Homo sapiens: one gene and its partner. The protein of the gene in region 2 interacts with the protein of the main gene of each other region in a pairwise test. Each region holds a gene or a part of one and is shown on either strand. Other genes may lie near its edges.

What was found.
Region 1: the proteins of BDKRB2 (region 2) and GRSF1 interact in a two-hybrid assay, tested with the Homo sapiens proteins (one study listed by IntAct).

The regions. Positions count from the first base shown.
Region 1 is NC_000004.12:70,807,752-70,822,890, forward strand, and holds the end of GRSF1 (G-rich sequence factor 1), read right to left. Parts: intron 13,111-15,139; 3' UTR 8,032-13,110; downstream 1-8,031. UniProt on the Homo sapiens protein: Regulator of post-transcriptional mitochondrial gene expression, required for assembly of the mitochondrial ribosome and for recruitment of mRNA and lncRNA. Binds RNAs containing the 14 base G-rich element.
Region 2 is NC_000014.9:96,196,332-96,211,592, reverse strand, and holds the start of BDKRB2 (B2 bradykinin receptor), read right to left. Parts: upstream 6,755-15,261; 5' UTR 6,634-6,754; intron 1-6,633. UniProt on the Homo sapiens protein: Receptor for bradykinin. It is associated with G proteins that activate a phosphatidylinositol-calcium second messenger system.

The DNA of each region.
Region 1 (15,139 bases), on a different chromosome or scaffold from region 2:
TGACTTCCACAGTGCCGAGATTACAGGCATGAGCCACCACACCTGGCCAAGTTTAATTTGTTCATGGCTGAGAACAGTTAGCTCGGAATACTTACATTGTTTTTTGAATAAGGAATTCCTTATTCTGAGTGAGTCACGAATGAGAGCTGATAGATGCTTTCTTGAAAAGGGCAATACAGTCATCCCTTGGTATCCATGGGGGATTGGTTCCAGGAACCCAACTTGATATCAGAATCCATGGGTGCTCAAGTCCCATTATAGAGAATGGGTTATATGGTATTTGCATATAACCTACATACATCCTCCTGTGTACTTTAAATCATCTGAAGATGATTACTTATACCTAATAAAATACCTACACATCACTTCATTTGCATGGATTCAACATAGTGCTTGGTGTTCAGTAAATTCAAGTTTTGCTTTTTTGGAACTTTGTGGAATTTTTCTTTTTCTGAATATTTTTGATTGGCAGTTGGTTGAAGCCATGGATGCAGAACCCATGGATATGGAGGGCTGACTGTACTTACTTACATATCTATCTATCTTTGAGTAACAAACTCTTTGGGGGAAAAGAGGGAAGTGTATTGAGCAAGAGAAGGCAAAAAACATTACATAATATTTTGATTCTGTTACGTGTGTCTATAGATTGTTTCATTCTAATCAAGACCTAAGAAGGTATGATTCTGTGACTGATTTAGAATTCTGGGGTGGAAATATCCTGGAACCATGTTTTTTAATAAATTCTGTCTCTTGGAAAGAGTTAACAACAGCCTGGGAAAGAGTTGTTATTCCAAAAGTCAGCCTGTTACTTGGTGAAGCTGAAGTTTAAGAGTTCTGGGGAAAAATAAAATCTAGTAATTCCAGCCTAGTTTGTTGATTGATGATTGTCTTTTTTTTTACCCTAAATAACAACATTTCTTTTTTGAATCTTCACTCTCATTTTTTGGCCACCTACATGAGCTAGCACTCTTTTAGGTGCTATACATGATGTGGGGCACAAAAATGGACTACAGGAGTGTTGCCCTAAATTAGAAAGTTATTTTATAACTAATTTTAAATTAATTTGAAAAGATCTTTGTAACACAATATAAGGAGGAACAGTCACTTGATACTTTACTTAGAATTACACATAAATATTAGCCTTAAAAAAATTTAGGCTGGGCGCGGTGGCTCACATCTGTAATCCCAGCACTTTGGGAGGCCAAGGCAGGCAGATCACGTGAGGTCAGGAGTTCGAGACCAACCCGGCCAATGTGGTGAAGCCCCATCTCCACTAAAATAAATTAACTAACTAACTAAATAAATAAGTAAATGCAAAAATTAGCCAGGTGTGGTGGTGTGCACCTGTAATCCCAGCTACTGGGGAGGCTGAAACAGGAGAATCATTTGAACCCAGGACGGAGGTTGCAGTGAGCCGAGATCACACCACTGCACTTCTGCCTGGGCAACAGAGTGAGATTCCATCTCAAAAAAAAAAAAAAAATTTACAACGTCCCAAAGATCTTTAGTTACAGTGCAGCCTCCCATAAAAGCAAGGAGACCAAGTCATGAATACCTTGACTTAATGGTATGCCTATCTGTCTTCCTTTACAATTGTGCTTTTCACCATTTACAATAGTATAAACTGAACCAAAGAGGCAAAGACTTGTACATTGAAAACTTCAAAATGTTGCCATACAAAATGAAGACATAAAAGTATGTTTTTCACCAGGCACGGTGGCCCGCACCTGTAATCCCAGCACTTTGGGAGGCCAAGAAAAAAAAGTATCATATTTTCATGGAGTCAAAGACTTAATAAATATTGTTAAGATGTCAATACTACCCAGAGTAATCTACAGATTCAATAGTCCCTATGAAAATCCCAACATTTCTGCAGAAATAGAAAAATCAATCCTAAAATTCATACAGAATGTCAAGAGACCCCCCCCCCCGATACTCAAAATAATCTTGAAAAAGAACAAAGTTGGAAGTCTTCACTTACTGATCTCAAAATTTAACACAAAACTACAGTAACCAACAGTATGGTACTGGCATAAAAATTAGCATATAAACCAATGGAATAGAATAAAGAGCCTAGAAGTAAATCTTTACACATATAGTCAGATTTTTGACAGGGGTGCCAAGACCATTCAGTGGAGAAAATAGGGTCCTTTCAACAAATGGTGTTGGGAAAACTGGATATCTACATACAAAAAAAAGTTGGACCCTTACACCATATACAAATATTAACTTAAAATCCATCAAGAACTAGCTCCATCCACTAAGGTTGGAAGAAAAAAGAGAGCTAGAATCATTAAACTCTTTAAAAAAGAAGAAAAAGAATTATTGGCCCCGTGTGGTGGTGCATGCCTGCAATCCCAGCACTTTGGGAGGCCGAGGCAGGTGTATCACCTGAGGTCAGGAGTTGGAGACCAGCCTGGCCAACATGGTGAAACCCCGTCTCTACTAAAAATACAAAAATTAGCCAGGTGTGGTGGTGGGCACCTGTAATCCCAGCTACTCAGGCGGCTGAGGCAGGAGAATTGCGTGAATGTGGGAGGCGGAGGTTGTAGTGAGCCGCGATTGCGCTATTGTACTCCAGCCTGAGCGACGGAGCAAGAAAAGACAGAAAAAAGCAGCCTGTCTTTTTTTTCAATCTCAAAAAGAAAAAAAAAAATGGAAAAGCTTCATGACATTGGATTTAGCAGTAATTTCCTGGGTATGACCAAAAGCACAGGCAACAAAAGGAAAAACAGATTGGACTTCAGCAAAATTAAAAATTTGTGCATCAAGGGACACTATCAGCAGAATGAAAAGGCAACCCAAGGAATGGGCGAAAACATTTGCAAATAAATCCTGCAACAATAAAAAGCCTGAAAAAAATGAGCAAAGTACTTGAATAGACACTTCTTGCAAAAAGATATAGAAATGTCCAATAAGTACAGAAAAGCTCAACATCAGTAATCACTGGGGAAGTGTACAAATCAAAACCACAATGAGATACCACTTTATAAACCTATTAAGGTGGCTATTATCAAAAAAGCAGAACAAGTGTTGACAAGGACATAGAGAAGCTGGAACCCATGTATACAGTTGGTGGGAATGTAAAATGGTACAGCAGTATGGTGATTTCTTAAAAAAGAAAAAAAAACAATTAGCATATATAATCCAGCAAATCCATTTCTGGGTATATACCCCAAAGAATTCAAAGCAGGAACTTATACAGATACTTGTACACCAGTGTTTACAGCCCTATTATTCAAAATAGCTGAAAGGTAGAGACAACCCAGGTATCCATCAATGGATGAATGGGTAAACAAAATTTGGTATATGCATACGATTGAATATTATTCAGCTTTAAGAACAAATTCTGACACATGCTACAACATAGATGAAACTTAAGGACATGATAAGTGAAATAAGCCAGTCATACATAGGACAAATATTGTATGACTCCATTTACACTAAGTACCTAGAATAGTCAAAGCATAAAGTAAAATGATGGTTCCCAGGGGCTTAAGGAAGAGCAGAATGGGGAGTCAGTGTTTAATAGGTACAGTTTGTGTTGGAGGAAGATGAAAAATTCTGGTGACAGATGGTGGTAATGGTTGCACAGCAATGTGAATGCACTTAATGCCACAGAAATGTACGCTTACAAATGGTTAAAACAGCAAGTTTTATGTATATTTTACTAGTTTAAAAAAAATTGTGTTTTCCGGAAGGATTCAGAAAGTAATTACAATTATGTGTGTCTATTTGGGTTATTACACAGGCATATATCTCTGTTCACTGAGAGGGCCTAGCAGCAGACATGCCAGCAGCAACGGGTACATCCAATGCCCAGATCTTGTTTTCTAATACCATTCTCCAAGAAAAGGAATCAGGGCTCCCTAGAGAAATGGCTGATTCTGGGTCTAGGGCATCTTGTAGTGCCAGAAAGTAAAGAAGTGTTCCACAAACAAGGATGTAGGCATGTGAAAGGGACACAGGAGCCAACTGATAGAATGCCCAATGGCCAAAGATGAAACAAATCTCAGCAACAAAGTAAATAATGCACCTTAGGATTATAACCCAAAGGATAAAGTAAGTACCCATGAGTCCATGTGTGTATATGACCTGATGGAGCGGTAGCATCTCTCCTATACAGAAAAAGCCCAAATAATTATGTAGATACCCCCCGCCCCTCACCACTTCAAGGAGATAGAGCTTAACTCTCCACCTTTCGAGTATGGATTGTGCTTAGTAACTTGCTTTAAGAGTACAATATGTAAAGAAGAAAAAAAATTTATAGTAACCTGGCAAACACTATCTTGGCCAGGTGATCAAAATTTGTATTAATATAATGAGTGATAAGCCCTATTAAAAATATGCACCCTTGATGTGATGAAAATGCCCCTTTGTGGTCTTCCTCCTAAGACCAGAAGGAAAACAATCAGAAAACCTCACCTTACGAACATTCTACAAAACCAGCTAGTACCCCTTAACACTGTCATGGTCATCAAAAACAAGTCTGGGATCCTTCTGTAGTTCATAAGCGTGACGACTGGGCTTTCACACTTCTGTGTGAGATGTGCCTCCTTCACACCTTGTTACATCAGGACATTACCCATCTGACGTGAAAAAAGTTAAAAAGGTTGGGAATCTGAAGTCATTAAAAACAAAAACATCTGAGGTGGTTAAAGAGACATAACTGAATGTAATTGTGGGATCCTGGAATGAAAATAATATTTGGAAAAAAACTAAAGATCTGAACTGTGGGATTTAGTTAATAGTAATGTATCAAATTTGGTTCCTTAGTTGTGACAAATATCCTGCAGTAATGTAGGATACTAACAATAGGTATACAGGTGGGTGAGGCGTATACAGGAACTCTGTACTCTTTTTGCAATGTCTCTGTAGATCTAAAACTTTGTTTTTTTTTTGAGATGGAGTGTCACTCTGTCGCCCAGGCTGGAGTGCAATGGCGCAATCTCGGCTCACTGCAACCTCTGCCTCCCGGGTTCGAGCAATTCTCCTGCCTCAGCCTCCTTAGTAGCTAGGATTACAGGCACGCATCACCATGCCCGGCTAATTTTTTGTATTTTTAGTAGAGATGGGGTGTCACCATGTTGGTCAGGGTGGTCTCAAACTCCTGACCTCATGATCCGCCCGACTCAGCCTCCCAAAGTGCTGGGATTACAGGTACGAGCCACCACACCCAGTGATCTAAAACTACTCTAAAATAAAGTTTATATATTAAAAAATTGTGCTTTCATACTCAAAGCAAGTATAGGTCTAACCCTATAGAACCTGACTGAACTCATCCCTAAATGCAGTTTGAGTTCTTACTTATTTCCAAATAGACTCCAAGTTTTGCAAGGTTGATAAGCAGATCGGAACTATGACAAAGTCCTTAGTTCATTCACTATAAGTCAAGTTATAAAAACATATGATGAAACTCTTAAAGGACATTTAACCATTCTGTGAAAGGAGGTTCTCCATTACAGCCTCATTTCAGCTTTGTTCACCAAAAAATGGGGGCGGTTTTTAAATAATTATATTTCAGTAGTTTAGTGGTCCTGTTTTGATTTACAGTAAAACTTCCTTCAAATTAACTTAGCCTAATATATTACCCAAAAAGTTATCCCAAGTCAAATCTTAATAATTCTTAGACAATAGCTGGTTTGGGAACTGTCATCGATGACAGGTCTCCCATGCTGGGAACAGATTAATTTTGATGTTAACACACTACTTTGGTATAAAGATTCTTGTAAGCATGCCAGTCAATATACCAAATCAGAAACCACGTATCTGACAAGCACAATTTCTACACCTAGAATAAGTGGCACAAACTTTAGTCAGTGAATTATCTTGAAATGTAAAATTAATTTAAAAATAGAACCAGTAGGCCAGGTGCAGTGGCTCACACCTGTAATCCCAGTACTTTGGCAGGCCGAGGCAGGCAGATCACTTGAGGCCAGGAGTTCGAGGCCAGTCATGTAGTGAAACCCCATCTTTACTAAAAGTACAAAAATTGGCTTGGCGTGGTGGCACATGCCTGTAATACCAGCTACTCGGGAGGCTGAGATAGGAGAATCGCTTGAACCCAGGAGGCAGAGGTTGCAGTGAGCCAAGATTGCGCTATTGCACTCCGACCTGGGCGACAGAGTGAGACCCTATATTTAAAAAAAAAAAAAATCCAGCAAGCGGTTGTAAGCATCACTGAGGATATCAGATCCCTAAGACTTAATTAAGCATGGAAAAGAAGAGGTAACTCAGGCTTCCAAAGGGCAAGGGCAAGTACAGTGAAAAAGCTGTACAAGTCTCCAGAAAGCAGTAATGACTTAGCATTCTGGATGCTGCTTTATGGCACAAAAGTATCATTCATGGAGTGAGCTGGTGGAAGGTAAAGTTAAGAAAAAATAAAGTATCATTCATATTCAATTACAACATCTATCACAAATACTATGTTCTTCTAGCATAACATTGCTCGTATTCCGCAATTTATTTTTGTCTTGCTGTTACCCAGGCTGGAGTGCAGTGGTGTAACCTGTGTGATCTCAGCTTCCACTTCCCAGGCTCCAGTGATACTCCCACCTCAGCCTCCTGAGTAGCTGGAACTACAGGCGTGAGCCACCATGGCTAGCTAGTTTTTGTATTTTTGGTAGAGATGGGTTTCACCATGTTGCCCAGGCTGGTCTCAAACTTCTAAGCTCAGGTGATCCACCTGCCCCGGCCTCCCAAAGTGCTAGAATTACAGGTGTGAGCCACCATGCTCAGCCCCATCTTGCTTTCTTGAGGAGGCAAGAAATGAATGAATCAACAGCCAGCCCATCAGAAACTGTTAATAACTTGTCTCCCTAGCTCTTGGTCTTTATTCCCAAATGTCTGCCATCTTCTGTCAAGCAGCAGCAGCAAAGGTTCAGAACCTCTTTATTTCCATCATAACCAGGTATTTTTGTTTGTTTTTGTTTTTGAGACGGAGTCTCACTCTGTTGCCCAGGATGGAGTGCAGTGGCGTGATCCCGGCTCACTGCAACCTCTGCCTCCCTGGTTCAAGCAATTCTCCTCAGCCTCCCAAGTAGCTGGGATTATAGGCATGCACTATCACACCCGGCTAACTTTTATATTTTTAGTACAGACAGGGTTTCACCATGTTGGCCAGGCTAGTCTCGAACTCCTGGCCTCAGGTGATTCGCCCACCTCGGCCTCCCAAAGTGCTGGGATTACAGGAATGAGCCACCAAGCCAGGCCATAACCAGGTATGTTTTCAAATCACAAGTCTTTGAATAAACTTGTTAAATTTTGCCTGTGGGCTTCAAATTAAGATTCTTAAACATATCTTGGTGATCCTTGTGACCTTCAATGAATCCATCCATATTCTAGAGTCTACTTTGGTTATACACCTTCATGCTTTATCCCCAAGTGCTTTCAGAACCATTTCACTAAGATGTTCTAATGCTGACATAAAACCTTGAAACTATAAAAGGGGAGATTTAAGAATTCAGCGATGTAAAAATAGTTTCTGCCATCATGAGCAAACAAAGAGGACAAACTGGGGGGAAAAGGTATTTAAAGCTCACTATAGGAACAAAGTACTCCTGCAGATTAGTTAAAAGACCAAAGCCAATAGAAAAGCGGTTAATAAACATCACACAAAGGCAATCAGCCAAACTCAGATTATGGAAACCTACAGGTTAATCTTATTTCTTCAGCAAATAAGAAAAAAATAAATGGATGGCAAAACATCCTGAATAAGAGAAGAAACAGACACTTCAACTTTACTAAAGATATCCAAATGGCTAGTAAGCTTATGAAAAAGTACTATTCATTGTCAGGGAATGCAAATTAAAACCAGAAGATACCACTACACAATGGCTAAAATTATAGACTGACAACAGCAAATGGTAAGGATATGGACCTACTAGAACTCTGGGAATGTAAACCAGGATAACCATTTAGGAAAAGGTTTGTCGTCTTCTAGTAAAATTTAAAATACATCAACTCAGGATAATCTCACTCCTAAATACTTATCCAAATTAAATTAAATTAAAATGTAGGTTCACAAAAAGGTTGTACATGTTCATACCAACTTTATTCATGATAGCCCCAAACTAGAAACAGCCCATTGTTCACCAGTTAGTTGTTCACCTAACAGGTGAAACGTTAAAATGTGGCATTCATACATAGAACACTGCTCAGCCATAAAAAGGAACAAAGCTTAAACACACTGATGAACATACAAACATGCTGAGTAAAAGGAACTTACAGAATACATACTGCATAAGTGAGTCCGTTATATGAAGTTCTAGAATAGGCAAAATTAATCTACAGTGAACAAAATCCTAACAGTAGCTGACTGCCAGGGGAGGGAAGAAGGGACAGGAGAGAGAGGTGCAGGAATTGACTAGGTGAAAAAATTCAGATGTAATACAGATGTTCCAGACATAGGGGTTTGAGTTACATGCTTTTACATCAAAACTCATCAAATGAGTCTGGGTATGGTGGCTCACACCTGTAATCCCAGCTACTCGGGAGGCTGAGGCAGGAGACTCCCTTGAACCCAGGAGGTGGAGGTTGCAGTGAGCCAAGACCAGGCCACTGCACTCTAGCCTGGGCGATACAAGACTCCATCTCAAAAAAAAAAAAAAAAAAAGAAAAAACCTCATCAAATGATACACTTAACATTTATTCACCTTACTGCAAATCTCCCTCAAAAAAACTCCAATGACGGCTGGGTGTGGTGGCTGATGCCTGTAATCCCAGCACTTTGGGAGGCCGAGGCAGGCAAATGACTGGAGGCCAGGAGTTCCAGACCAGCCTGGCCAACATGATGAAACCCCATCTCTACTAAAAATACAAAAATTAGTCAGGCGTGGTGGTGCACATCTGTAATCCCAGCTACTCGGGAATCTGAGGCATGAGAATTGCTTGAAACTGGGAGGTGGAGGCTGTAATGAGCTGGGATCACGTCACTATAACTCCAGCCTGGGTGACAGAGCGACTGTCTCAAACACAAAAAACAAAAACAAAAACAAATTCCCATGACATGTATGCTGAAAGGATTAAAAGTGAAAAATGTCTACAACTTACTTGGACATGCATATAGAAAAAAAGATGAGACTGCAGGAGGCAGGCTATGGGATAAAGCATGGCAAAATGCTGCTTGTACAATCTAAGGGATGGGTATTGGCATCACCAAGATTTTATATACTGACAGAAAATGATCTTTAGGGTGTTTAGGTGGGAGAAAAGCCAAAATACAAAATAGCATGTACAGTATAATTTATATTTTTAAAAGAAATGACAACACCCACTAACACTTGCTTATAAATAAAGTAAAAGTCACTGCAAGCTTACACTAGAAACTGATAACAGGGCTGTGCGAGAATAGAAACTAAACAGCTGAATTACAGGAGGGGAAGGAGAATCTTCACTACCGTTTGTATCTCTTCAAGTTTATTTCCTTCAAAAAATAAAATATAAACAACTTTAAAATGAGCCTGCTTTTTTTTTTTCTGAGACAGGGTCTCACTCTGTCACTCAGGCTGGAGTGCAGCAACAGTCATGGCTCACTGCAGGCTTGACTTCCCAGGCTCAAGCAGTCCTCCCACTTCAGCCTCACAAAGTGCGGGGATTACAGATGTCAGCCACCACACCTAGCCTATTCTTGATTTTCATATAATCAGGCTTAAGACAGATTAAACCTTCCTTCCTATACTTCCTTTCTAAAAATAAGAAAACCACTAGAACTAAAATTCTGGACAGAAAATCCAGACACCTCACCAATGATGATATAAGGATGGCAGATTAAGTATATGAAAAGGTGCTCCACATCACTATGGGATTGGGAATTAAAACGATGAGACCACTATTCACCCATTAGCTAAAATGCAAGAGTGACATCACCAAATACTAATGAGGGTGAGGAGCTACAGGAACTCTTATTCATTGTCAATGGGAATTCAAAATAGTCATGTTGGAACAGTTTGGCAGTTTCTTCCAAAACTAAACATACTCTTAACTTACAATCCAGCAACCTGGTTCCTTGGTATTTACCCAAAGGAGCTGAAAACGAGTCTACACAAAAACCTGCACATAAATGTTTATAGCAGCTTTATTCCCTTCCTACAAACTTCAGATTCTCTTCTAATTTGCTGAACTTGGGGAGTGGGAGGGTAATGTATTTCTAATGCGATAGCGCAATTTGGATTGGAACTCTACTGCTGACATACATACCATTCTCCTCTATACTATAGGTCCTACCAATTCAATGTGAGTGTCTTCCGATAATTTAGGGGAAACTCTCAGAACAATGGAGTTTTTTGTATTTTGGTTTTTTTGATTTTGACAGAGTCTCACTCTGTTGCCCAGGCTGGAGTGCAATGGTGTGATCTTGGCTCGCTACAACCTCTGCCTCCCAGGTTCAAGCGATTCTCCTGCCTTGGCCTCCCAAGTAACTGGGATTACAGGCGTGTGCCACACCTGGCTAATTTTTGCATTTTCAGTAGAGCCGGAGTTTCACTAAGTTGGCCAGGCTAATCTTGAACTCCTGACCTCAAGTGACCCACCATGGAGGGTTTTAAATTCTGAAACAAACAGGATGTAACCCCAAAAAATAACTTTCCAAATGAGAACTGAGTAAGGGCTGTTCAGGGCAGAGGACATTAACAAGGCATGTTGATTAATAAGCAGATTCATGGCACACAATGTTGCCTTCAAACTGGGTTCCTTATGCTTCCCCCTTCAAGTAACACAGAAGTAGTGAGAATTTGGAGCCTTCCTCCCAGGGAAGATTCGGTCCCCCTTCCCACATGACAGAAGCTTAAGTTACCCACGCATAAAGGGACACATACTCTATTTCTGCTTCATTGCCTGGTGTCAATATTTAGATGAGACCACAATATTCAGATGAGACCACAATATTCAGCAATCAGCTCCCTGGTATTTACATACTGCTTCTCAGAGTTCTCCCTTGCACTCCGTAAGCAGCAGCTAGGCTAAAGCAGGATATGAGCACCCTGACCATATGCCCCACTCCCACTATTCTTCCTGATGGCTTTACCACAAAGGAAGTTATAGACACAAGGAACCCAAACAGAAGGAAATTCACCATCACTGCTTCCTTCAATAGCAAAGAGTGATGCAAAACAGTCTTCTCAAATGTGGGGAGACGGTACCGTCTTCCACTTGCATGGAAATAAGATTACTTTTACTGTATTATGTGCTTCTCTTCCTTTCCCATAACTACATCCACCTTAGCAATCACTTACGTACTAGCCTAGATCATGAACAAAAACAAAAGGGAGCATTCAAATACATAAAATGATTTCCCAATAATGGCCACATTTTGTACAGAAAACTCAGCCTGTAGCGTGCCAAGAAGATATATCCTTTCAACCTTACCCATCCATCATATAGCATTTTAATGCTTTGCTTGCATTCTTTTTCCAGAGATGTGCAAATAAAACTCATTAGCTTAAATCAATTGCAGATGAATTCCTCACAGTAGGCCCCACAGATCTTTTCCACAGCAAATCAGATACCAAATGTGAAAGAGCAACAAAGATCACATTCTAATAGTTCGTACAACTACAGATACCAGTTCTCATAGCTTGGCATATTCAACCATATATGAAAACGCATTTCCATCTAGGCAGTACTACTGATGATGTTAAGCTGGTTAAGTCATGTTCACAGGATTTTAGAGAACACACACACGAAAATTAACCCTTACTACTTATATTAATATAGCAGGACTTGAGGTAATAATATATTCAGTTGACTCACAGACTCCAATAATAAATACTCTTAGGTAATCTTCAGCCTGAAACAAGTCTTCATTTATTGACTACAGTACAGTGATTTCGCATCTTAGCTGGTAATCAAAGATGGTTATGTATTAAGTAAGAGAAGACATAGTCTCTCTTCCAGGTATCACCTGTCAGAAACCTGGGCAAATTTAATTTTAAGAACTAGAACTGCATCTCCTGGTGGCAGTCGTCACCCTGAGAACAGGAACAAGGCAAAGAAAGCATACAGGATTTTGATTCTCCTACACAGGTGCACATAAAGTTAGTTTATTAATGACTATATTTTGAAGCCAGCCATTTTGTCCAATATTTAAATAACAAGCTGTTTAATATTAAAGCAGAAAGTACTGCCACATTGTGACAGAAGTACAGCTTTATCCATAAACCCTTCACACAATTATACATTAAATGCTATTTTTATTTAAGCAAGGCACCCCTACTTGTTCTAAAATATGGGATGTACTACTCCATTTAAAAAGCAAATGAGGAGACTGATTTTTTTCCTATCTAGAGCTGGTTTAAATTCAAGTGAAGCCATTAATTTTCTTACCAGTCTGGACTGTTCTGACATGTCACTTCACAGTTTTGAGACTAACAAACACCCTTAGGTCTACCCCAAACCAAAAAAAGCCAGGGAGGGACAGTTTAGACAACTTTTAAGTTAAGACTAGAATGCCCCCTTAAGTAGATAGGCACCACCGTTATACGCCTTTAGCACAAGGCTTAGAAAGGCAAAACATTTCTAAAGACATAAAACCGCCAAATTGTCATTTACACTAAGCTGTGGTATTTTTTGTTTTGATTTTTAAAAATTCCTATCTCTAAGTAATCAAATACAGCAAAATTTAAAACTATTCTGCCAAACCATACCAGTTCAAAGGTCTGAAACCGTTCTTTGCTTTGGTGAATGTTTGGTTAAAATAAATCACTGTTTCACTCCATGAGAAGTTTTACATCAGAGCACTCAATTCACAGGCAAAAAAAAAAAGTTACTTTTTAAATGAAACCGTTTAAAGAACACTGCTGAATAAAAATATGTGGTCTTTACAATGAGTAACATATCATCTATGAAAACAAACCATTTAATCATATAAAACAAAGACCATATTTTTAAATCAGATCCTGGACAGTTTAAACAAAAATTTTAATTTGTGGTTTATTTCATAATCCCAAACTGGATCTTTCATTTCTTCTTCTAAACAGTCCACTATGAAACTTTTCTTAGAAGCAATTAACCCAAAACACCAAAATCATTTCCCTAGCAGTTGCTGCTAATAAACTGGAACTGTATATCCCAAGTCCAAGAAAGATGTGCAAATGAAATGCTTCTTGCTTCACCCTAAAAATAAAACAAAAAATATTGTACATTTACTCAAGATGAAAAAGGATGGCACACATTCCCATACCATTTAAAATTGCAAATTCAAATTTTTCTCCTTTCTAATTTAGTGCAAGCTATCTGATAAACCGAGTTAAAGTGAGGAAAACTAGTCAGGCATTAGTGTTTACAGGCTGGTACAAAAAACTGAGTTTCAGAATATATTTTAAATAGATTTTAGCTATTATAAATATTTAACACCAAAGAATTGTGGGACTTCATATCCAAAAATAGCAACAGAAGAGGCCAGGCACGGTGGCTCACGCCTGTAATCCCAGCACTTTGGGAGGTTGAGGCGGGCAGATCAGCTGAGGTCAGGAGTTCGAGACCAACCCGGCCAACATAAAGAAACCCCGTCTCCACAAAAATAAAAAATTAGCCGGGTGTGGTGGCGCATGCCTGTAATCCCAGCTACTGGGGAGGCTGAGGCAGGAGAATCACTTGAACCCAGGAGGCAGAGGTTGCAGTGAGCTGAGACTGTGCCATTGCACTCCAACCTGGGCAACGAGAGAAACTCCGTCTCAAAAAATAAATAAATAAAAATAAAATACAAAACTTAGCCGGGCATGGTGGCATACGCCTGTAGCCCCAGCTACTTCATAGACTGAGGCAGGAGAATCGCTTGAACCCGGGGGGCGGAGGTTGCAGTAAGCGGAGATCACACCACTGCACTCCAGCCTGGGCGACAGAGAGAGACTCCGTCTCCCAAAAAAAAAAAAAAAGCAATAGAATAGGATATAGTAATAGAATGAATGTCCGTGTTTTTTTGTTCCTTTTTTTTTTTTTTTTTTGAGACAGAGTTTCGTTCTGTCATCCAGGCTGGTGGAGTGCAGTGGCACCATCTCAGTCACTGCAACCTCCGCCTCCCAGATTCATGTGATTCTCCTGCCTCAGCCTTCCCAGTAGCTGGAACTACAGACATGCACCACCACACCCAGCTAATTTTTGTATTTTTAGGAGAGACAGGGTTTCGCCATTTTGGCCAGGCTGGTCTCAAACTCCTGACCTCAGGTGATCTGCCTGCCTCAGCCTCCTGAAGTAATGGGATTACTGGAGTAACCCACCATGCCTGGCCCCATGTGTTTTCAAGAAATCATTACAGGTAAGTGTCTCAAAAGAATGAGCCATTACCTGTAGAAAAGTGACTGCAATACAACAGTAATACTTACAATACCTTATGGGAAAAAAAAAAGACACCATATATTTAATCGAGGCAAGGAACATCAAGATGTATTAAGCAAATCTCACGGGTAGGTTAACACTATAAAATTATGTACTTCCTAAGGCAAAAAAAAAATGCCATTTTAGGAAAAGGAAACAGTGGCACATTAACTGTGTTTATGGATGATACACTCTGGTTTCACATGGTATCCTTTTAAAAATACCTTAAAACAGAAAATGGCTGGGCGTGGTGGCTCACACCTGTAATCCCAGCACTTTGGGAGGCTGAGGCTAGCGGATCACTGGATGTCGGGAGTTTGAGACCAGCCTGGCCAACATGGTGAAACCCCGTCTCTACTAAATATACAAAAATTAGCTGGATGTGGTAGAGAATGCCTGTAATCCTAGCTACTTGGGAGGCTGAGGCAGAAGAATCACTTGAACCCGGGAGGCAGGGGTTGCAGTGAGCTGAGATTGTGCCACTGCACTTCACCCTGGGCAAAAAGAGTGAGATTTCATATCAAAAAAAAAAAAAAAAAAAAAACAAAAGTAACCTGAGAAAATGGAAAACGTGTTTAAATTTAAGTGGGGAAAAAAAGCTAATGCAAGTCACATATCCAGTCTATTACGATTTATAGCTACTAAAGGTGGCTATTTTTTGGCAAACAGCATGATGTTGGAAATTATGCATAAAAATTCTATATGGAGATAATGCTCAAAGCTACCATATAAATCATAAGGAATTATGGCTGGGAGCAGTGGCTCACTCCTGTAATCCCAGCACTTTGGGAAGCCAAGGCAGGTAAATCACTTGAGGCCAGGAGTTAGT
Region 2 (15,261 bases):
GAGTCCCCCCAGGTTTTCACTACTTTTGGCTATCACAAATGATCAGCACAGATCCCTCATCTGCAGGCCCTGGCCCACGTGTGAGCACACCTGTAGCAGGTGTGCAGACCCTCTCCTGCCTCCCCTGACCTGTTCTTGTGTTCTAGCCATTGCTTTCTGGATCTTTCTGTTCAAAGAAGACCAAGAGGTCCTTCTCTCACCTCTCACTTTGCTAACCGGCCAGTGGGCTCCAGAGTGGGGGTGATGTACCCCAGGTGCAGCAGCGCATGCACAAGGTGCAATCTCCGAGGCTCCGGGAGAACCCCAGAGAGCCTCCCTCTGTGGTCAGGGAGTGACCCCTGCACTCTTAGAGCACAGCAGGTGCCAAGCATGAGTGGGTGCTAGGGGCTGAGGGAAAGGCCCAGTCTTTTCCCTCGAGAGGATTCCTGTTTGGTAGGGATGGCGGGGCACAGCCTGATGCTTCCCGAAATGTTTGGGCCCAAATCTACCTTGAAAGGAGCTGGCTGTGAGCTGTGTGCATTTAACAATCTGTCCATTTAAATTTTTGTGGAGATGGGCAGTTTGCTAATAACTTGGATCGGGGAGGGTTTCTGTCCTTTCCTGAGGCAGCAGGCACATGAGCACAGGTGCCAGAGAGTGAAGAACAGGTTTGGGGTCCCCAAGTTTTTTGGCTGGTGGGACTAGGAGGAAGGGCCTGAGGAGAGTGGCTTTTGGGTCCAGGACAGACCATTTGCTAAGGTAGCTTGTTTCAAAGTGTGGCTGAAATCCCCTGAGATATTAGCAAGTCCTTGAGTACTGTAAAGGAAAACAGAAATCTTGGGACCCCCAAACTCTTTATGCCAAAGGGAAAGTTAAGCCTGGAGACTGAGTCAGCCAACATTGTCATCCTTATTCCTAATGACAGCTGTTACTCCACAACCTTAGACATTAGCCAGACCCCCACAGAAAGGAAAAGGCCTCGGATATCTCCCCATGACTGCCCCCACAAATTGTTCTTTGCTGGGTGAAACCTTTCAAGATGTGGATCTTACCACAAAACAAGGACACATCAATTGTAACTTGAGGTCTGCAATCCAAGCCTAGCTCCTCACACTCAAGTCTGTTAGAGTCACGCTGATGGTGCTGATCTCCCCAGGTACAGCATAAAAGCAAGACAAAGGCAAGATGAGATCAGGCCTCCTTCTGCCTAACCTCCTCTTCCTACATGCTTTCTCCACTTCAAGGACATGTGTAAATACTGTGAAAGAAAAATAAAATTAAAATCCCCAGACCCCAAACGCACTAAGCCAAAGGGAAAAGTCTAGCTGGGAGCTGGGTCATGCAACCCGCCTCCCGTTTTGTGTCTAAATGGATAACTATTTACTTCCCTCACATTTTGCTCACAGTGAAATTCCTTGTGGGCCCCAGGATCTTTGCCTTCAAGCAGCTCTGTTGTATTTCACCCTCATGATATAAATTAACAGCTTAGCTTCACAGGTATGGAACAAAGGATAGAACCCAAAGTCATCCCTCTGCTCACCTGAGACGAGTGCATAGCTGACAGCTTCCTATATGCTATGATGATGATGATGATGATTATTATTATTATTATTATTTTGAGATAGAGTCTTGCTCTGTCACCCAGCCTGGAGTGCAGTGGTGTGATCTCAGCTCCCTGCAACCTCTGCCTCCTGAGTTCAAATGATTCTCCTGCCTCAGCTTCCCAAGTAGCTAGGACTACAGGCATGCACCACCGTGCCTGGCTAGTTTTTGTATTTTTAGTAGAGACAGGGTTTCACCATGTTGGACAGGCTGGTCTCGAACTCTTGACCTCAGGTGATCCACACAACTTGGCCTCCCAAGCTGCTGGGATTACAGTTGTGAGCTACCGTGCCCAGCCCTATGATTATTTTATCTTATATAAAAATGCAGATTGACTGAGCACCAGGTGAATGCGGAATTGATGATTCCTCCACCTGCTTCTTTCACATGAAAAATGTGCATTCAGTGAAGTTAATGAAAAGGCTCAAAGGGGTGCAACTGCTTGCCTCTTTTGGCCACCTTCCCCCGATTTTTCCTTCTTTCCCCTACTGCCTGCTTTTTTCCCTTTGAATAGTGAAGACCCTTCTTTGAAAGAAGCATGGGCCAGAGATGTTTCCTGTGATTTCGTGTCCCTCTTTCCTGGGTGCATCCTTAATCTTGGCAAAATAAACTTCAAAAATAATTGAGACCTGCTTCAGTCAGTTTCTCTTTGATTTACAACACTAAGTCTCATGACTCTTCGGAGAGCATAGGCCACACACATTTTCTGTGGCTCATGTTTTTCCCAGGTGCACCCTCAAACTCTCGATAAATGTCAATTGAAGTTTATCAACTCGATGAACCTTGATTGATTGAGATTTGCCGCAGTCTGTCATTTCAGTGAATAGTACCCAGACTTCAAATCACAGTCCCCAGAGCAGGACCCCCGCACCTGCGTGGGTGACCAGTCTCCAGGTGATTCTAAAGTATGACAAATTTTGGTCTTTCTCCGGCAGACCACCCTGCCACTGGAGTGTGACCACTTAGGAAACCCGCAGGGAAGAGGAGAAGCGACCTCATGACCATGATAAGAACCACAGAAGCGACGGGGCTGTGCTGGAGCCTGGCACTGTACAGGTCACAACACCCCACGGGCGTCCCCTCAGGCACTGCTCATTTCCAGATGTCACTCAGCTGGGCCACTTCTCTGTGCCCCACGACTGCCCTTCACCGGTGGCACAGATCAGAGAGGCTCAGAGGGGTTGGCAGTGAATGGGATGGGACAGGCCGGAGTAAATCTAAAGTTTGAGCCCTGAAGAGAAGCGTGAGAAGGACTCTTGCTGTCAGTGCCCACAGGCTCATTGCCTGGACACAGGAGTGTGTGCATGTCGGACAGGGCTTTTTTCTGGACACCCTTAAGCGGCCATGGCCTTACTGCAAAGCAAATGCAACCTCTGTGACCGCCCCAGGCCCTCACTCCTGCCTCCATAGACAGTCCGTCTGGTACCTGAGCTCCTGCAGTGTGCCTGACATCCCCTTTCACTACATCAGCACAAACAGAGGTAAGCCTCCTAGTGGTCCTCAAAAATAGGAATGATGCTCCCCATTGTACAGGAGAAGAAACTGAGGCTCAGATAACTTTCCTGGCCAGTAAGTGACGGTGAATTCGAACCGAGAGCTGTTTGTTCCACCGTGCTTTCTGCTGTGATGACTTTTTTGGAATGTGTGTGGGGAGGGGGAGGCACATATGTTTCCAGCCTCCAGAATCTTCCAGAACCCACTGTGATGAAAGAGTCAAAGAAATACTTCATGCCTTACGTTTGTTCTAGAAAACAACCCTGGAGTGGGTGTTTTGGGGAAGCAGAGCCTTAGGTCCCCAGGAAAACCAGAGGAGCTCAGAGGAGGAATTGAGGATTTAACACTTTTCAAGGGGGGCAGATTTAGTAGCTGTGGATATTTAGCTCAGAGAGAAGCAATAGGACTAGAATGGTACAAACCCCAAGGAAATGAAAGTGGACCCATTGCTCAGTGGGGGCAGTTGGAGGAAGAGCTTTTAAACAGTAGAACTCTCCTAAGATGGAATGCGCTGCCTCGCAAAGTAGTGAGCTCCCCATTCTTGGAGGCATGCACACTAAGATGGATATTCATGAGGCAGGGGATTCCTGGACCCAATGGATGTCAGAAGTGATGCATTTGGGGTGTCAAGTCTTGGCAGGTCTGATTGTTTGACTCATGACCCTGAGGTACCGTAATTGTCCTAAGTGCCTTCTGAATCCTCAAAACAACATGCAGATCTGCTCTGTGTGCCTTTTTTTTTTTAAAGAGCAGTTTTAGATTCACAGCAAAATTGAGCAGAAAGTACGGAGACTTACCATATATCCCCTGTGCCTACACATACGTAGCCTCCCCCGTTACTGACATCCCCCACAAGAGCAGTCAATTTGTTGTAATTGATGAACCTGCGTTGACACATCATCATCACCCAAAGTCCATAGTTTTCATCAGGGTTCACTCTTGGTGATGGACATTCTGTGGGTTTGCACAAACGCACAATGACATGCCTCTACCATTACAGTGTCATACAGAAGTTTCACTGCCCTAAAAGTCTCTGGGCTCCTCCCATTCTCTCCTCCCTCCCCTAATTCCTGGCAACCACTGATTTTTTTTATTTTTTACTGTCTTCATAGTTTTGCCTTTTTCCAGAATGTCACATATAGTTGAAATCATACAGCATATGCCTTTTCAGAGTAGCTTCATTCACTTAGTGATAGGTTCTGTATGCTTTTTTATTGCCTGCTATATGAGCAATATTTATTTATTCATTTAACCATTCAGCATTTCAGCAAACACTGATCCATCCATGTTGGGCTAGGCATCGTTTTCAGTGCAGAGGAGGCAGCTTGAGCGGATAGACAAGGCCCCTACTTTCATTCTGAAAACCAGAGTCCCCCGGTGCTATGATCCAAATGCCTGTGTCCCTCCAAAATTCACCTGTTGAGACTTAATCTCCAAGCTGGTGATATTAAAAGGTGAGACTTCTGGGGGGAGATTAGATCATGAGGTCCCCCTCCTTGTGAATGGGATTGGTGGTCTTTAAAGGAGGCCTGGGAGAGCGTGTTCACCCTTCCACCATATGAGGATGCATAGAAGGTGCCATCTATGACGACTAGGTCCTCACCAGACACCCAATCTGCCAGTGCCTTGATCTCGGGCTTCCCAGCCTCCAGCACCGAGAGCAATAAATGTCTGTTTTTTGATAAATTACCCAGTCTAAAGTATTTCTTATAGCAGCTCAAACAGGCTATGACACTGGGCAAATCTGCAGGGCTCCCCCCACCGCGCCCAGGTGGGCCCCTCCCTGACCACAAGCAGCACAGGTGAGGAGGCCGCCCTAATGTTACCTCTGGAGCCACCAAACTTGTTACTGAGCCAGTCACTGTGTTAGCAAAAACCACGTGGCACAGCTATTCGGTTGGTGCAAAAGTCATTGCGGTTTTTGGCATTACTTCTAATGGCAAGAACCGAGATGACTTTTGCACCAACCTAATATTTCCAGGTTGGGTCCCACCGGCAGGCAAATACCACTTTCAAAGTCCTCAGATCCATCATGCAGGCCCAACCATGGGAACCTCCCCGTTTGCAAGGGAGGGAATCCCAAAGAGATTGAGGCATTTCCCTGGACACTGAGCGAAGGGCTGGCTGAGGTCATGTTCCCCCTCTGAGACTCAGTTTCCTCATCAGTGCAGTGAGAGGCTTGGAGTGCAGGGTTGCAGGGAGAGCTGGGATGAGGCCTGGGGTGCTGCCTGTGGGGACAGCACGCATGCTTCCTCTTTTTCATCCAAAGACGCCTTCTCTTGGCTGTCCCCTGCTCTCACCCCAAGCAGGGGAAACAGCAAATGCTTCCTCCAAGCTTGTGGGGCTCACAACTGTGGAATGTCTCTTGCTGCTGCCAGGGCCCGAAGGACGCAGCACAGTTTTTTCTCCAGAGAACCTCGGGCAGGGCCTCTTTGCAATGTCCTCTGGGGTTGCTTACCTGTTCCCCCACCACCTAAGCCCTTCTCCAACTCAGAAATGGAATTAGGGGCGGGGTTGGCCAGGGAGGCCCCCATCACCCCACACCCAGGCCAGGGCTCCCACTTCCTGTAGGCTGGGGAGCCACAGGCGGCCTGTGACTCAGTGAGGCACATTCTGACCTGCCTGGAACAGCAACACCTGCTGTTCACCTCCACCCAGGCTGCGGAAACGACCTACTCTCAGCAACTCGAATCACGGCTGCCATTTATTTAGTGCCTATGACATACGTGGTGCTTCACAGGCAAGAGCCTACCTCTATCTTTGCATAAAGAGGAACTTCCAGGTCTTCTTTATAGCTCAGGAGACAGGACAAAATAACTCGCCCAAAAACGTCACCCACAGGGTGAGAGCAGGGCTGGAGCTGCAACCTGGGCCGGATGCAAAGCCGGTGCTTGGAACCCCTGCACCATCCTATCCCCCTGCCCTGGTCAGCCAGGACCGTGGGAAGAGGGTCTCTAAGCCCATCTGAGGTAGTCACTACCACCTGCCTCCTGGAGGCGCATCAGCCAACATTCACAAACCCCCCCACCCCCGCCTGCTTCTGATTTAACCCTGCCACCCCCAGGGAGCCAGCGAGCTGGCTGCTTTGCAGACAGAGAAACTGAGGCTCAGAGAGGTTGAATAGCTTGTCCAGGGTCACACAGGGCCAAGGAGTGGCACAGCTGTGGGTGAAAAGCCAGGTTCTGGAGCCTCCACCCAGCACCCGTCCCTGCTGCACCACACACACCTCGCTGCCTTACTCCAAGGTGTCCACTCAAAGTATGTGAAAATCCAATCACGAAATCCCTCACACACTGGACACACACAAGCCTGTCTGTCACCTTGATTCAGAGAAGAGAAACCTACAACAGACAAACAGGGCGATTCCTCCTGCTGGGAACCCTTCTCCCCATCGCCTGTCAGACCTCCCCTCCGGAAGGAAGGGAACTTTTCCCAACTCCCCACGACCACAGGGAAACTTCTCCCCGCTGCCTGCCCTCCCTCCCTCCCTCTGTGCTGGGACAGTTTGTCCTCCCAGCAGAGGTGAGGCGGCTGGAGCAGCCCCTGCCCGGCACCCACCTTCTCCGGAGCAAGCGGCATGGGCACTTCAGTCGCTCCCTGGTACTGCGGGGCAGCCTGATGTCCCCACCGTCCCCACCGTCCCCACCCCTCCTCGGAGCCCAGAAGCCAGAGCTGGAGTGGCGGCGGGAACAGCTCATCTTTCAAGGGCTGGGTAGTGATGTCATCAGCCTCCTGGGCACTTCCCCCTCCGCCTCCAGCTGAGCTCTGCACTCCTGCCCAGCTGGAGCCAGGCTGGCTGTGGGGCCGGGAAGGCTGCGGCCACCTTCGCTCTCCGCTCTGCCACCCTCTGAGCCCTGGGGGCCAGGGAGGCTCTTGGAAGATTTCCATGTTTGCGTAGCCCGGCTGCCCGTTGGAGTCGTGGGACGGCAAAAACGTCCCTCCCGGCTGACCACAAAGTGGCCTGGGAAGCCCCATGTGAATAAATTTGCCTCGCGTAACATTTATTTCTTATCATTATTTATCTTCTTGAGGTGGTTATTTTGTGTCTGAGTTTTGGATGTAAACAGTGGGCGTTTACGCGGAAGGTGTAAACAGAGGGTGGCCAGGTGGGCAGGCGGAGTCCTGGGATTTCTTTGTATGCCACGTACGGCTCCCAAGGGCGACAGTGGCAGAAGCTGTCCTGTTTCCTGGGTACGGGTGTTTGCGCTCCCCTGAGACACGCGGCCGTTTCTTCGGAGATGTATGGCGGAGGTTTCTCCCATGTCAAGGCTCAGGCTGGCTTTCTCAGTTTTGCTCAAAGACTTACTAACTATCTGCAGCACTTTACACTCCCAGGGCTGAGACGGTAGGAGCTGGAAAGGGCAGGGACTTTCAAAACATTTTTTTTTGAAGCCTTAAAACCCTTCCTTCAGAAGAGAACAGATAAGAGTGGGCCCAGTGGATCTGGGGAAGAGACAGGAGGGCCAGAGGACGTCCCCCCAGCCCATCAGCTCCTCTTCCCTGTGACTTGATTCATAACAAGCCTACAAACCAGCAATCAAGCCTGATCCCATCATCATGGAGACAGGGAAACAGAGTCTCAGATCAGTTTATGGGTGGCCTGGGCGCTAGCCCTGGCTTGGCTGTGAACTGGCTGTAGGCTCTTGAGTGAAGGCCCTCCCTGGCCTGGCTGTGTGGTTGACTCATCTGTGCACCTGGCTGTTCAACCACATTGGGGCTCCTTAATCTGGAGTTTCCTGACTTGCCAGTTGGGGACAGAGGTCTATGGACAGGCTGCCCAGAGTCCACAAGCCCTCTGAAAAGGTGTGTCTGTGCTTTATCCCCTATGGAGCCTCATCTATAGCTTTCACTAAAATATTGAAGAGCTCTGAGATCCACAACATATTGAGACCTGCATGAGCGTCCAGAGACCCTCTGAAGTCTCTTCCAACTTAGATATTGTAGAGCTCTGTATCTATGAGTTGAAAATCCTCAAGGATCTGAATCCAATGTTGATGCTTCTGTAAATATCATTGACAGAAATCTCTAAAAGACATCTGTCCATCTGCACACATCTCCATCCATCTCTGTCATATAGTTTTTTAAAAAGGCTACTTTAAACCAGTTTTGAGGTCCTGGCTGGAGGCCAGCCAGTTCATGAGCAGCTGATTAAGTTCACATTCTGGCCCTTTCTCTTACCAGGTTCTCACACTCTGGGCCACTAGCCACCTGCCCTGATGGCCTTGGAGCCAGGTACCAAACAATAATGGACAGCTCCCATCATCTGGAACTCACAAACTTATTTAAGTTAGCCAATCCATAGGGAGCCAAGGAAACCTCGTTAACACCACCCTACGTGCCACACATAGCTGCCGCCTATAGCTCCAGCTTGCTTGGACCCTGTCCCCAGTTGCACATCCTGTGTGGCCCAGCCTGACAGCCTCTCATTTGGAGCTGTAAGAAACAAAAGTTCTACCTTTCATTTATCTGAGTGTCACTGTGTTGTGTCCTGCCATCAAAAGAATATTTTAATCTTATAAAACAATTACACACTCTTCCATTCATCTACACTGGTATCTACCCACACATCCGCCCACCTGCCTATCCACCTATCCAACCATTCATTTACTTATTCGCCTGTCTGTCTGTCCATCCGTCTATCCATCCAACCATCCATCCATCCATCCATCTGTCCGTCCATCCGTCCATCCATCCATCCGTCTGTCTGTCCATCCATCAGTCCATCCCTCCCTCTCTCACTGCCTCCCTCCCTCCCTCCCTCCATCCATCCACCCACACACTCATTTATCAGATACCCACATAGCCAGGCAGTGCATTGTCAAGCAGAAGTGAATGAATCAGTCATCCCCATGCCTCAGACATCCCCGTGCCTCGGAGGAGTTTACCCTGAGGCCAGTCCCCTGCCTATGGGCAGAGCCAGGCGGAGGATTTCAAAGTGTTCCTTGAGGACTCAGTAGCACCCAGTTTATGTCTGGAGTGGCACACTTTTGTACTGCATTTTTGCTATGAGAAGGTTTGTCTCAACGCCCCTGCAAAGTCCCTGCAGCGGCAGCCTCATCACACTCCTCACCACTCAGTCTCCTTGGCTGGGGTCTGCAGGGGGTGGCTCAGCCCTGTAAAGCCTCCAGGTTCGAGTCAGCCCAACTGCGTTCAGCAAGGACCACAGGAGGGATCCAGTTATTTTGGCAAAACCCTGCCCCACTAAGCAGGGCTCTTTCACATGGCACGATAAGAAGCTGTTCCTCCTGCTGTCTCCTCCCCGGCCACTGCAGCCTCCCCAGCCACGGCCAGCCCTCTGTACTTTAGCCCCACAGACCCCCCTCGCACTCCTGAGTGGGGCAGGATTGCACTTGACCCGGGGCCTTTGATGTGGCAATCTCTGCCTGAAATGCCCTTTCTCGCCCTCGCTTGAATCAAGCCTGCTCTTCTCTTGGGAGGCTGCCTGGGGGCCTTTCCTGAAGCCCCTGGTCTTGTCCGCACCTCTTGCATGCCTGTTTTCTAACACACCCCGGAACTGTTCTTGGTGGTCTGAGAACACCACGAGGCAAGGACCCCGTCTTACTTATTGCTATTTATCACCCGGCACATAGGAGGTGCCCTCTGCAAGGAGTACAAGCAGTCTATAGGGAAAAGTGCCCAGATCCAACCTTACTGGGATGAAGGAAAGACCAGGCCAAACAGAACAGCATAAAAGCGGGCTGTAGACATGTGTGTACATGTTTGTTTATGAAAGTCCACCCTCCACCCCAATGTTCCAGATCTTTCTCTCCACATGTCTGTGTGTAAGGCACAGGTCCTCCCGGGAAGGCCATTATTCTATTCGTCGGCCTCCAGGAGCGGGCTGTGCTTTTGTCCAGAATGCCACAGTGCTGACCAGAAAGGCACTCCCTGGTCCTCTGTGAATCAGCAGCCGCCCTGCAAAAGGCTGACCAGTTACACACAGGTCAGACAGACCAGCAGGGAAACTGGAAAGCAGGGTCAGAGGATAAGTGCTGATTTGGGTTCATGGCAAAACCCATGCAGAGCCTGTAGTTTTGCCTGATTGGCACTAACACTCACAGCTAAGAACTCTAGAGAGCCTCTGCGTCCCCAATGCGCCTCCCAGCCCATGTGCCCATGCGTGCCATCTCTGGCCTGCCTTCTCTGCCTCTGGCCTCCCTTCCCAGAGGCCTCCTGCACAGCCTGTGGGGGCACTGTCCTCTGGCACAGGCATGAGCCCCCCAGCCCTAGCCCCGCATGGCGACTCGCTGCCAAGTGATCTCTGTAGCAGGCCCTACGTAAGCACACGACCCTTCACAACAGCCTGATGAGATGGTTACCAGTCAGTATCCCCATTTTACAGATGGAGAATCAGAGGCTGAGAGGAGTTACTTAACTTGGCCTAAATCCTGCACAGTGGAAACAGCAGAGCCAAGAGCTGAGTCCAAGTCTGACTCCATCGGCATGTCTTCCCCTTCCCCAAATGAAAATGCAGCTTTTTAAAAAAGCTGGTCATGGCTGGGTGCAGTGGCTCGCGCCTGTAATCCCAGCACTTTGGGAGGCCGAGGCAGGCGGATCATCTGAGGTCAGGAGTTCGAGATCAGCCTGGCCAACATAGCAAAACCCCGTCTCTACTAAAAAATACAAAAATGAGCCAGGCATGGTGGCACACATCTGTAATGCCAGTTACTCAGGAGGCTGAGGCAGGAGAATCACTTGAACCTGGGAGGTGGAGGTTGCAGTAAGCCGAAATTGCACCACTGCAGTCTCGCCTGGGCAACAGAGTGAGACTCTGTCTCAAAAAACAAAAAAAACAAAAAAAAACAGCTGATCATATACATAATATGGATGTATTGTTTCTCTATTATTTGAACTTAATGTGTATGATAAAAAGTGAAAATCAACTGAAAAGTGTACAGCTTGGAGATGATTAAGAATTTGATGCCAGCTGGGCGCGGTGGCTCACGCCTGTAGTCCCAGCACTTTGGAAGTCCAGGCGGGTGGATCACTTGAGGTCAGGGGTTTGAGACCAGCCTGGCCAACATGGTAAAACCCTGTCTCTACTAAAAAATACAAAATTAGCCAGGTGTGGTGGCAGGAGCCTGTAATCCCAGCTACTTGGGAGGCTGAGGCAGAAGAATCCCTTGAACCCAGGAGGCGGATGTTGCAGTGAGCCGAGATTGCGCCACTGCACTTCAGCCTGAGTGACAGAATGAAACTGTGTCTCAAATTAAAAAAAAAAAAAAAAAAAGAATTTGATGCCATGTTTCTGTGTGTTTACATATATTCATTATATAGTGTTATATATGTCCGTACTTCAATATATCCCACTTTACATGAACAGGATCATATTATGTATGCTGTTGTTGTAAGCGGAATTCCGCCCCCCCCTTTATTTTTTTTTGAGACGGAGTCTCGCTCTGTCCCCCAGGCTGGAGTGCGGTGACACGATCTCGGCTCACTGCAAGCTCCGCCTCCCGGGTTCAAGCGATTCTCCTGCCTCAGCCTCCCGAGTAGCTGGGACTACAGGTGCCCGCCACCATGCCCAGCTAATTTTTTGTATTTTTAGTAGAGACGGGGTTTCTCCGTGGTAGCCGGGATGGTCTCGATCTCCTGACCTCGTGATCCGCCCTCCTCAGCCTCCCGAAGTGCTGGGATTACAGGCGTGAGCCACTGCGCCCGGCCGAATTTCCCCCTTTTGTATTGCTGTTTCTTCTTGCACAGCTCCGCCTCCAGCCACCATCCTTTCCTTAGCATTCACGGAAACGTATGACAGGCAGGCCAACTACAGAATTTGTGGGACTCCGTACAAAGTGAAAAATGGGCCCATTCCTCAAAAAGCAGGAAAGAAGTGTTGGTAAAGGTATTAAGCCATAAGGCTTTTTCCTTTCTTCTGTGGTCTCTCTTTTGACTTGTCATGACAAGTGTTCTTTTTTGTTGTTGTTGTTGTTTTGTTATTTTGAGACCAAGTCTCACTCTGTTGCTCCCCCAGGCTGGAGGGCAGTGGTGTGGTGTGATCTTGGCTCACTGTAACCTCCACCTCCCGGGTTCAAGCAAATCTCTTGCCTCAGCCTCCCGAGTAGCTGGAATTACAAGTGTGTGCCACCATGCCCAGCTAATTTTTGTATTTTTGGTAGAGATGAGGTTTCACCCTGTTGGCCAGGCTGGTCTCAAACTCCTGACCTCAAGTGATCTCCCTGCCTTCAGCCTCCCAAAATGCTGGGATTGCAGGAGTGAGCCACTGCTCCTGGCCTGTCATGGTGTTTTTAAAATTTGCTGTTTAATGTTGTTCTAAGTATAGAAAAATTAAAACGTTAAATTATTAGCATGCATTTACCATTCACCTTGAGAGTATAGAAAAATTAAAACGTTAAATTATTAGCATGCATTTACCATTCACCTTGATATCACTCAATGCCAGTTATAAGCACAAAAACCAGTGCATTTAGCTCTTATTTAAAACCACCAGAATTGTGCCTATTTCACAGCTTGCAGAAACACTGCAGAAAACAAGCTCATCTGTTTTCCTTTCACTTCTTGGTATGTGCACGTTTCATCAGCACTCTCTACCTTCCTCTCACAGGGAGTGGGGGGACTCAAAGGAGCAGGAACTCTGGGGCCCTGCCCTCCCCTTTTCGGTGGGTGTGGTTGGCCAATGTAGGGAAACAACACCAGTAAGGAAGGATGTGACCGGGTCTCTTGCCTTGGTATCTGTTAGAACGCCGCTGCCTTCTTTCTGCCTTTGAAGCAAGTCCTGGTTTGAATGGAAAGCGTGGCCTCTGGATGGAACGCCTTGGACTCACTTTGAGTGTCTCTGAACCGGGCACCACTGCTTCCAGCAGAGAGACTTGGAGTGACGAGACTCTGGAGAAGTGAGCCCTACCCTCCACCTCTGGGGGTTGCTGGGCAAACAAGGGAGAGAGGGAATGCCCAGTTCCTCACCCAGGGCTTGGCAGGGACTTCCCCAACTCAGAGACTTTTCTCCACTCTAACACTTAAGAAATTGAAGTGGGTAGATTTAATCTGCAATTATTCTTTCCCTTGAAAGCTGGTGTCTTATAAATAGAGGTCCTTAGTGTTAAGAAAATATGCAAAGTCCTCTGAAGGGTTTATGAAATGCGTTTGGAAGAAATAAACGCTTAAAGCAAGCAAAGTCCTGGCTATTCCTGGTGCAAAAACCTCCAGAAGTGAGATGGAGAGGGACCTGAGGTGGGGGCAAGGTGAAGAAGAGGCCAGTCCTTCCTCTGTCCGTCTATCCCTCTGCTGCCCTGGGAGGTGACGGTGGGTTCCCAGGTTTGGCGGGAAGTAGCCCTCAGCCTGGCAGTCGGCCTGGCCACTCTTCCTAATTCTATCCTTGGCAGCGGGGCTGTCGTCTGCAGGTCTGGAGAGGCAGTTACTCACTTCCTGGTGCTGGGACGTCCGCCTGGGGGATTCTGAGGCAGGGGCAGTGGGGCTGGTTCCTCCCCTCGCTTCCTGGAATTCCTCAGACCCCTCTTCTGGGACTGACAGCTGAGCCAGAGTCCCAGGCTGCCCGCTCGGCCTGCCCATAGAATAGCCCTCCCCACCCTTATCTGCCCTCCATATCCCAAGTTCAGGTTCCAGCCTATTGGCCACCAGAGGTGGCACAAGGGGCCTTTGCCTCCGAGAAGACACAGGAGTGGGGGTTGGCACCTGGCAGGAGCCCTCCATGATCTAGCCATGTCCACCTGGTCCGCCTGTCTACCAATCAGCTCCTTCACCTGACCAGGCCTCCAGTCCCCTGGGGCCCTGTTCTTGGCTCACACTGTGCTTGGCGTGTGCTGTTCCTCCCCTGGACTCCCTTCCTCACAGCGCTGCAGACCCAGTCCCATTGCTCTCCAGCCCCGCACGATGTGCCTGCTCCCGAAGCCCGCGTTCCCTCTGAGCCGCTTTGTCACAGCCTCTTACTGTCGGTCTGTGCCTTCCCAAGTGACCCATGACTTGTCTTCCTTCAAGGCCCTGGGCCAGGGACCTCCTGTCCTCTGATCACTTGTCACCAGGGTGGCTGTAACCCCCCGGTCCACCCATGCCCTTTATAACACAGAGACAGCACCTGCTGCACGGCTTGTGAAAATTAGATGAGACGATTGCTACAAGGCAAGCAGCAGAGCGGCAGGCCTGCGGCAAGGACTGCACAAGACAGCCACGGACCTCGCCTTCAAGCCCAGCGCCGCCACTCACAACCCACACAAGCCTGGGCAGGAGCCCCAGGCTCCTCACCAGTAGAATGGAAGTATTAATATGAACAGGTCCATCACAGGGCTACTGGGATGGCCAGGTGGGAATCTGCGTAAAGCCCAGTCCTCACTGGATTACTCCTCTCTTCTTGGCAGTGGCCACAAGCACCCCTTCTTTTCCTCCCTTTTGAAAAAATCAAGGCGAAACTCACATAACATAAAATTCCCCATTTTAAAGTGTATAACTGATTGGCATTTAGTACATTCACAATATGGTACAACTATTCCTTCTATCTAGTTCCAAAGCATTTCATCACCCCCAGAGAGGACCACATTGCCCACTAAGCAGTTGCTCCCAGAACCCCCTCCTACCCCCAGCCCCTGGCCACCACCAGCTGACTTTCTGTTTCTATGGATTTGCCTGTTCTGGACATTTCGTATAAATGAAACCTTACAATATGTGAACTTTTGTGTCTGACTTCTTTCACTTAGCAAAACGCTTTTGAGGCTCATCCGTGATATGGTTTGGATATTTGTCCCCTTCCAATCTCATGTTGAAATGTGACCTCTGGTGTTAGAGGTGGGCTGAGGGGGAGATGACTGGGTCATGGGGGTGGATCCCTCAGGAATGGCTTGGTGCTGTCCTCACAGTAATGAGTTCTTACACGATGAGCTCCCTCAAAAGCTGGTTGTTTAAAAGATCCTGGCACCTCCTCCCTCTCTCTCTTGCTTCCTGTCTTACCACATGACACGCCACCTTCCAGTTGCCTTCCACCACAATCAGAAGCTTCCTGAGCCCTCACCAGAAGCAGATGCCAGCACTGTGCTTCCTGTACAGTCTGCAGAACTGTGAGCCAAGCAAACCTCTTGTCTTTATGAGTTACCCCGTATCAGGTATTTCTTTCTTTTTTTTTTTGAGACGGAGACTTGATCTGTCTCCCAGTTTGGATTCCAGTGGTGCAATCTCAGCTCACTGCAACCTCTGCCTCCCAGGTATAAGCAACTCTTCTGC